2 linked regions of the Homo sapiens genome follow. The protein of the gene in region 1 purifies or fractionates together with the protein of each later gene. This does not show direct contact. Each region holds a gene or a part of one and is shown on either strand. Other genes may lie near its edges.

Region 1 (5,576 bases):
CTTTAATTAGGAAATATGAATATTTTCAGTTATGAACATTAAGCCTCAAGACAACTAAGGCTTAAAGGGTAATAAAGGTTTTGTAAAGTCAGAGTTCAGGAGAACAGACCAAACATACTAAATTATTCTTTAAAATTTCATTCCTTACTTTCTAATTTCCAAAGTATTTCAAGTAACACTGTAGCTGTCCAAGGCACCAAATTACTAAATTATTTTCAAGATGAATTTGTAGTGGTACATACATTTTAACAAGTTTTAAAACTCAAAAGAATATGTCTTTTATCATTTCATAATCATTAAAATTAATTTTAAAAATTGGGTTAAAAATAACCCAAATGGAAAACATTTATTCCTATTAAGTTTTAGATTCATTTATTATTGACTGACTGAGACAAGAGTCTCACTCTGTTGCCCAGGATGGAGTGCACTGGTGCAATCTCAGCTCACTGCAAATTCTGCCTCCCAGGCTCAAGCAATTCTCCTGCCCCAGCCTCCCAAGTAACTGGGATTACAGGCACCTGCCACCATGCCCAGCTAATTTTTGTATTTTTAGTAGAGACGGGGTTTCACCATGTTGGCCAGACTGGTCTCTAACTCCTGACGTCAAGTGATCCGCCCGCCTTGCCTCCCAAAGTGCTGGGATTACAGGCGTGAGCCACCGCACCCAGCCAAGTTTTAGATTTTTTTTTAAAGGATTCTTTAGGAAATCAAGTTCAAGTTTTATACTTCCACTTAATTCCTCCTTTTCTTCAAACTGTGAACTCATGCCAGCTCTTATTTCCTACTCCTTAACTCTGAGCATTCTCCAAAGGGTCCAAAATTCCATTTTTTTTCCTCCTAGTTTCCTTCGGACTTAGAAACATCTTCCAAGTTCCCTTTTTCCTGTATAATGCTGAATCTGTTTCTTAAAATAGTCAACTCTTTTTATTGTTCTTCACATTACAAAAGTAACACTCAGAAAACCAAGACATGTTTTTAGAAAATGGTAATTCTCCTTCCCCCACTCCATAGACACCATCTTTCTTTGTACTCTGACAGAAATGCATATTTTAAGTAGGATTACAATAAACACATTATTATCCAAGGTTTCAACAATGGGAATGACATCTGAATACTCACCTACTTTCACTCCTACAACTGCAAATCTCCAAAGTTCTGAAACTCGACTTGCCTTAAACTAGAATCAGCTTTTCCTTGTGATTTGCTATTTCAGTTGAAGGTACCATTATTGTTCTTTTAGAGATACTCCCAACCCAGCCCCACATGCTCAAACTTTGCCAATTAGTTGCCAAATTCTTCTAACACCTCTATCTCCCTTTTCTGTGACACCAATCAATCAGTCTGTCTCAAAAAACCCTCATCTTGTCCAAATCCATTTACAAGCCATCACCAAATTGCCTTTCTTCATTCCCTGCTCAAAATACTTCAGCGGCTCTGAAATTACTATCAACTAAAATCTACATTCTTGCTCCTGGCATTCAAGAACCCAATTTGCTTTACAGTAATATTCCTCCTAACACACACACATCAGTGCTCCAGACTTGGATTCCCCAAACACATTCCTTTCTCCACTATAGCTACAGCAGTGTTTACATTCTTTTTGCTTGGAATGATGTCCCCAACCTCCCAATCCCTGACTATTCAAATCCTACCTATCCTAGAAACCTACTTTCTTTGATAGAAACTGTTCTTTCAGCATACCTGCAGAACTTAGTGAAACATTTAACACTCATATATCACCTGATATTGTAGTCTGCAGTTATCTAAGTATAATCTACCCTATTACACATGTATCTATAACAGAAAGCAAAGATCCTACCCTGTCCATCTATGGATTCTACAATATTTTGTACAAAATAAGTACAATTAGTATTCATTAGGAAATGTCTGTCACATCTGGATGTTTTTAAAGGCAACCACAAAATATAGCCTGCTTGAAAAATAAAATCTATGTTTCAGACAATGAGAAACCATACCCTGGAGTACAGAAAAAGTGACAAACTCCAAATTAAAAATCCATCTTGGCTGGGTGTGGTGGCTCACAATGGTAATCCCAGCACTTTGGGAGGCTGAGGCGGGTGGATCACTTGAGGCCAGGAGTTCAAGACCATGTCAACATGGTGAAACCCTGTCTCTACCAAAAATATAAAAATATGCCAGGGTGGTAGCACGTGCCTGTACTCCCAGCTACTCAGGGGGTTGAGGTGGGAGAATCGCTTGAACCCGGGAGGCATTGCAGTTAGCTGAGATCGCACCACTGCATGCCAGCCTGGGTGACAGTGAGACCCTGTCTCAAAATACATAAATAAATAAATATTAAATAAAATAAAAATCCATCTATCCACCTTATTTCAGCAGGTAATCAAGACATTGCATATTATTACAGTAGACGCATTTCACAATCCACTGCACATATAAGCAAGGGCTAGTTCATTTAAGTGATGACTCTGTCCAGGGATTTAAAATGTATTCTGTGCCAAAATGTCAAGTCATCTGTGAAAAGGAAAACAAAAGGACACAATAAAGTAGAAGACATATAAACCTCTAAATACAAACCACCTGATTCCCCAAGAAAATGGGCCACTAATAATCCCCCAAAGAGTTGTGAGCTCAGAACAGGCTCTTTTAAATATATATATTTTTAATATATATATTTTTAAATATATATATATTTAAATAATATATATATATTTTTAATAGATATATTTTTAAATATATATATATTTAAATATATATATATATTTTTAATATATATATTTTTAAATATATATATATTTAAATAATATATATATATTATATATATATATATTTTTTTTTATATTTTTTTTAATGGAGTTTCGCTCCTGTTGCCCAGGCTGGAGTGCAATGGCGTGATCTTGGCTCACTGCAACCTCTGCCTCCCAGGTTCAAGCGATTCTTCTGCTTCAGCCTCCCAAGAAGCTGGGATTACAGGTATGTACCACCACTCCCAGCTAATTTTGCATTTTCAGTAGAGACAGGGTTTTTCCACGTTGGTCAGGCTGGTCTCAAACTCCTGACCTCAGGTGATCCACCCGCTTCGGCCTCCCAAACTACTGCGATTATAGGCGTGAGCCACTGCGCTCGGCCCTGAAAAGATTTTTTTATTAGAAACTTCTTCCATGGAAGGTAACAAGAAAATGGAATTAATTCAGCCTACCAGATGCCATATGTAATCTTACATTCTCTACATGGAAAACCACCTTATTTTCCTGAGACAAAACTTCAGAAACTTTAAAACAAATCTTCTAAGTTGGGTCAAAACCAAAACAAAATAACTCTAGTTCTACTTTATGCCACTTAGAGGGGAGAAAGTCAAGCAGGAACTGTAAATTATTTTTGTCAACTTGCTATTCACAAAGTAGTAAATTAATCTTCAGTAACTATTCATGAGCTTTGCCATAATTTTATAACTAATTTTTAAAATTCTAATAACTTTTTTCCTGAAGCTTGTTTTTACTACACACAAATGAAGAAATTATTTGGGTTTTAGAAACATTTCTAGTGAAAAAGTGCCATTTTGCTTTATGCAAATGTATCAAAGAAAAAAAGGGGAAGGCATCAGATAGACAAATAATGTAGTAAGACTACAACCTCAAAATTTGGATGTATCCCAGCAAGTAACAATCTGACAATACTCTATCCTGATTAAAATCACACCCCCCAAGATGTAATAGTGAGTTAACATTTCAAGAATAGTATATGTTTGTTTTAATTCCTACCCAAAGTTTGTAGGTATATGGGGTTCATAGATTTTCCTTTTATAGTCACGTTCCTACCTATGGAATTTGGGAAGAATCTGCTCTCATTTTAAAAACCAATATCCTAAGTAACAAGTCTCCAAAGTAATCATCTTTCTCATGGCCTTTGCAGAATAATATCAAAGTTTCACTGCATTTTTACATTAGACATGAAAGCCTTTCTTGGTATTTAAACTGTAGGTCTAAGAAAATATAAAAGTCCAGAGACAGTTTCTCATTAGGATTTGGAAGTGACTTGCACAAGTAATCAAGACTGTATATAAATGCTGCTTTATAAAAAATTTTGAGAACAGAATTTACTGAAATCACAACTCAGAGATCTCAGTCCAATTCTCCAGTGATTAAGAGAGTTCACTAGAGTTTTCAAGGTAGCCAAAAAGAGGCAGGTATCCAAATCAATTCAGGAACTTTGAAACTATATATGAACTCAACTCATGAAAGAGTTCAGGCCTTTTCAATTTGGATTACCAAAAACAGGCAAATAAAAACAAAAGAAAAAATAAAAACTTACTATACATGTTACATAACAAAGTGTTTCACTCTTTTATGTGTAAAGTCTATTCATACCCTTACCCTCTTTTGGAAACTTATGACTAAAAATCAGGGTACAAAACATAATATTTACAATTCTCCAAGTACCCGAAATACCTCTAAAACAAAAAGCAACCTGTGGAAAAACATTTCAATACCTGACAGAATAAATATGGAAAAGCACAGAAATAAATGTTACTACTACCTTACTCCCAAGGGAGCCTTCCGCAATGAAGTTTACAACAAAGTGTCTTGAAATGTTGTTAATCTGTTGGTATACTTGATAAATTATAAAGAAAACATTTCTATTGGATTCTCATTTTAGGTTGAAAAAAAACCTGGTATTCTAAGTATTAACACAAAATTAAACTTTTGCTTTTAAACTAAACTTATAATAAGTATGCTTTTATCAAAAATATATGAACATGGATTTTAAAAAGCCAAACCCTACAGAGAGGTGTTAAATGAAGAGTTAAAGCAAGTTTTTCTAGTTTGTCTTTCCCATCTGTGATATCATAAAAAAAATATTAATATTTGGTCTTTGTCCCATTTTCTGACATAGCTTCTAAAATCCTTGGAATCTCTGGAGTGATGACTGTTTTGTACAATAATCAGATGACTGGTGCCTGGGGGCCCCTAGATAGCTTCAGGATGGGGGCTAGGTAGCCAGGGGAATCAGCCCAGTGATTAAGGGTTATAACTTTGATTCCTACCCCCAGCCGCCACTTCTGGGAAGAAAGAAGCTGAAACTTGAGTCCATAAACCAATGACTAGTGATCTAATCAATCTTGCCTATTTAATGAACTTCCATAGAAGCCCAAAAGGACTGAGTTCTGTGAGCTCTCAGATAGCTGAACACTGAAGCTCCACGCCCCTTCTCCTCTTCTCTCCTTCTTTGTCTCACCTTGTACATCTCCTTCCATCGGGTTAATTCATCTGTGTCCTTTGTAATTGCCTTTATAATAAATGGGTAAATGTAAGTACAGTAGTTCCCCCTTACCCAAGATTTGACTTCCTTTTTTTTTTTTTTTTTTTTTTAGTGATGGAGTCTCGCTCTGTTGCCCAGGCTGGAGTGCAGTGGTGCGATCTTTTGATTAACATAGGTTTTTAACCTCAATATCATTCGGTTTATCAATCTTCATTATGTATTTGCTTTTATATATTTTTAAGGATTTCTTCCTTAATCTAAGATTGGAAAAATAAAATATTCCATATTTTTTTCTAAAAATTTAAAGTTCTGCATTTCATATTTACATATACATCTAG
Region 2 (3,898 bases), on another chromosome or scaffold:
AAAAACAGACAAGGCACCAGGCGCGGTGGCTCACACCTGTAATCCCAGCACTTTGGGAGGCCGAGGCAGGCGATTACGAGGTCAAGAGATCAAGACCATCCTGGCCGACATGGTGAAACCCTGTCTCTACTAAAAATATAAAAATTAGCTGGGCATGGTGGCACGTGCCTGTAGTCCCAGCTACTCTGGAGGCTGAAGCAGGAGAATCACTTGAACCCAGGAGGTGGAAGTTGCAGTGAGCCAAGATCACACCACTGCACTCCAGCCTGGCAACACAGCGAGACTCTGTCTCAAATAAAAGAAAAAAAACAGGCAAGGTGCAGTTCCTCATATTAGCACATGCTCACAAAAAAATAACTATAGTCTTCAGATGACAGGAAAGTATTGAAGTTTCAAATAATGTGTAATTCAGGTTTCTGGAACTGATAAACTGCTCAGAAAAGAACAGTTTGTCTTCTTATTATAGGTAAGATCTTCCATCACTCAAACATAGTCAATGATCTGCTAAGGGCAAATTCTTAGGAATACCCCTGCTTTATACGCTAGTCATATTAATGTCAGACTTTTTGTATAGACGTATTTTAATAGCTTATGGGAACTACAATGAGGTTCTTCATTAGTTTAAATTCTTAGCCTTTGGGAAGGCACAGATCCTTATGAGATCCTAATGAAAGTTTTGGAGACTATCCCTAGAATAATCCACATATGAACATACATTAAATCCTGCATTTTGTTTCAAGGAGTTCATGAACCCTTAATACACATTTATAAATCACAAGAATACCTATTCTATAGGAATGCTACTTTTCAGATGGAAAAGGCAGCAGTTCTGACTTTGTACTGAGAGAGCAGGCATTTCAAACTGGTTTTTGTTTGTTTGTTTGTCTGTTTATTTTTGGTGGGACTGATGGATGAATTTTCACTGATTCATCCATTCTCTCATCTAGGTCTTCTTTTTATCAATGTCATATTGTCTATGACCATGTAATAGAACAAAGCTAAAAGAGTATCTGGAAATTAAATTTATCAAATTTACCCTCATTAAAACTATGCTCCAAAAAACGAGCTACCTATTCACAATTGGAGATACAGTACAAATGTAACATTGGTGTTTATTTACAACCCATACCCCATTATCGCCTAGTCATATCTGGTGCCAACAAACTAAATCCAGAGATAAGAATGCTGCAAAAGTTTTCTTGTACCCAGTGTATACAGATATCAGTATGAGTACAATGATGACTAATCTACCTAAGAGATCTCCATACGGAAATGACTCCCATATCTGAATAGTACCAAATCCTCAGACTTGAACTTCTTTCAATAATGACATAAACCTCTCATAGAATCACAAGTGTATGAGGCCATCTGGTGGATAAAATACGAAACACACAAATTCTTAGCTAGTTGAAAGCAGAGTTCAGGTCTCCTCATGACCAGGTCAATATACTGTTTACTAAACCATGCAGCCTCCTCAGAGATTAAGGGTGTGATTCTATTGCTATAACACACCTGAAATGGACCCTATTATTTTAAATATTCCTTCAAAACAAAAAAAGTTCACAGCCACAAAAATCTGGCTGACCTGAACTCTGCCTTCAACTAGCTTAAAATTTGTGTTCCTGTATTTTATCCACCAGAATAAAATGGCACCAAGAAAGTGTCCCAGATTTTCAAAATAACCATCAGATGTAACTGGTCTGGAGAGCTATATCCCTTGTTATGACAGGAACCACACATTAGTCATCTCTGCAACGTCCTCATAACCAAAGACATTCCTGACAAACAGCACGTGCTCAGAAATTATAACCTGAATTAAAACAAATCATATGACACAACCCTTACTGCCCTCCAAATAAATTTACACAGCCTTAAATTCTGCTCAGGTACCTTTAGTGGGTGCAGGTTGTAAACTGATAATTGGTTGCTGCTTTGCCAATGGCATAAGCGTTGGTACTGTCTGAATAATGATGGTTTTTGCTGGAACACTGGAGTTTGTTTGAGTCTTGGGTGCTGCTGGAAGCAATAAAGGCTTGGGCTGAATTGAAGGTTTTGAATTCACCTGAATTTTTTTCTTTGGAGTCAGTCCATTTTCTGGAGAAAAACCAGACAAACCACAAGTCAATGTGAAAGCAATTACGCAAGCCCTAAAAAACAGATTCTATCACACACCTTTCTCTACACATTATCTTAACTTCGATTAACAATCTTTAACTGGAGTTTAAGCATAGCTACAGTACATATACCTGAATGAACTGAAGAAAAGTACTTAAACTGTTACCTCCTTTTCTAACCAAGCTGCAGTTTTGGGAATGGGACACACTAACTGGTAAAGGAGAATTGCTAAAATCACGGGATAACACCCAGAGATTAATGAGGTAACAAATGTCATAGCTCCATTCAGTTATCTTTAACTGAAACTTTGAAATCTCTCCTGAAGATGGTGGGGTCTGAGTCTATTTTAAAGTATCTTTCACCTGTAAAGACAGAGACAACCAAAGATTATTTCTCCCCTTTCCTCTCCACGGTAATCACTCACAACAAACAATATAGGTCCACCAATTAAAAAACAGCAAGCCAGCCTAATAAACATAAATTTAATCCAGCATTTTCTTTTAAGAAATGGAACCTAAGCTCAATCTGAAATAGAAATAACAGAAGTTAGGAGATAGAGTAATACCAGTCTTGTTCCTAGGACCAGTGACAGGCTTATCTTCCTTCAGTGGCTCCGCTGAAGAGAGACTATTAGAGTTTTCACCATATAAGGAAAGGGGAGACATCTGAGAACTAGAAGACAAATCCAACTCCTCCTGTAGCATAATAAAAACAAAAATTAATGAGTATAATCCTTAAGCAGCAAATTGCATAGAAAAGGAGGAGACCCACATATAAACAGAAAAACACTTCAGGGTAACTTCAAAGGAAAGGTATATTAGAAACTGTATATATATATTAAGTAATAAGTGACTATCAGCATGATCCATCTATACCAAAGGAAAAATAACTCAAAATGCAGAGTAAGTCTATGCCATCCTGTTAAAGATATGAATCATTGATCTGTTGCTACATTTCTTCCTACAAACTACACACACACACACACACACACACACAGAGACACACACACACACACAGAGACACACACACACACACACACATATAAAACTTGGTTCGTAGTCATACAAACATTCAGTATCAGTATAAGGTTGCAGTTAAAATGCCAATATCCTTTCTCCATAATCTCTCTTATTTGGTCTTAAAAGAATATCAAAAGCAAAATAATTTTATTTGTATTCTTTTCTGTTTTCTATTTTGTAATACTGCCTTTGTTCCAAATGTTGTAAAAGAAAGATGCATGAATGGAGCAGTGCTTTGTTGTTGTTGTTGTTGTTGTTGTTGTTGTTGTTGTTGAGACAGAGTCTCACTCTGTTGCCCAAGCTGGAGTGCAGTGACGCAATCTCAGCTCACTGCAACCTCTGCCTCCCCAGTTCAAGCAATTCTCCTGCCTTAGCCTCCCGAGTAGCTACAACCACAGATGTGTGCCACCACGCCTTGCTAAGTTTTTGTATTTCTGGTAGAGAGGGGGTTTCACCATGTTGGCTGGGCTGCTCTAAAACTCCTGACCTCATATGGTCCACCCACCTCAGCCTCCCAACGTGCTGGGATTACAGGCGTGAACCACCCCACCCAGCCAACAGTGCTATTTTCTTTAATTTAGTAGGTGAATTCATAATGATTGAGATACATAAAGATAACATTCGCATTTTCCCAAAGTCTTTTAATATTCAGTGAATCTATCTCATTTTGTTAGAATAAAGAAACAACATAGAAGTAGCAATTCAATTCAGACAGAAAAGATGGCATGCATGATCACGCAATAGACATAATCTCTACTTCATAA

Evidence for each region. The genes of interacting proteins can lie anywhere in the genome.
Region 2: the proteins of RNF139 (region 1) and ATF6 purify together in Homo sapiens (affinity purification with mass spectrometry, with the first as the bait; one large-scale study listed by BioGRID). This does not show direct contact.

Annotation. Positions count from the first base shown.
Region 1 is NC_000008.11:124,480,177-124,485,752, reverse strand, and holds part of RNF139 (E3 ubiquitin-protein ligase RNF139), read right to left. Parts: intron 2,494-5,576; exon of another isoform or gene 2,346-2,493; intron 1-2,345. UniProt on the Homo sapiens protein: E3-ubiquitin ligase; acts as a negative regulator of cell proliferation through mechanisms involving G2/M arrest and cell death.
Region 2 is NC_000001.11:161,790,320-161,794,217, reverse strand, and holds part of ATF6 (cyclic AMP-dependent transcription factor ATF-6 alpha), read right to left. Parts: intron 2,811-3,898; coding exon 2,681-2,810; intron 2,095-2,680; coding exon 1,891-2,094; intron 1-1,890.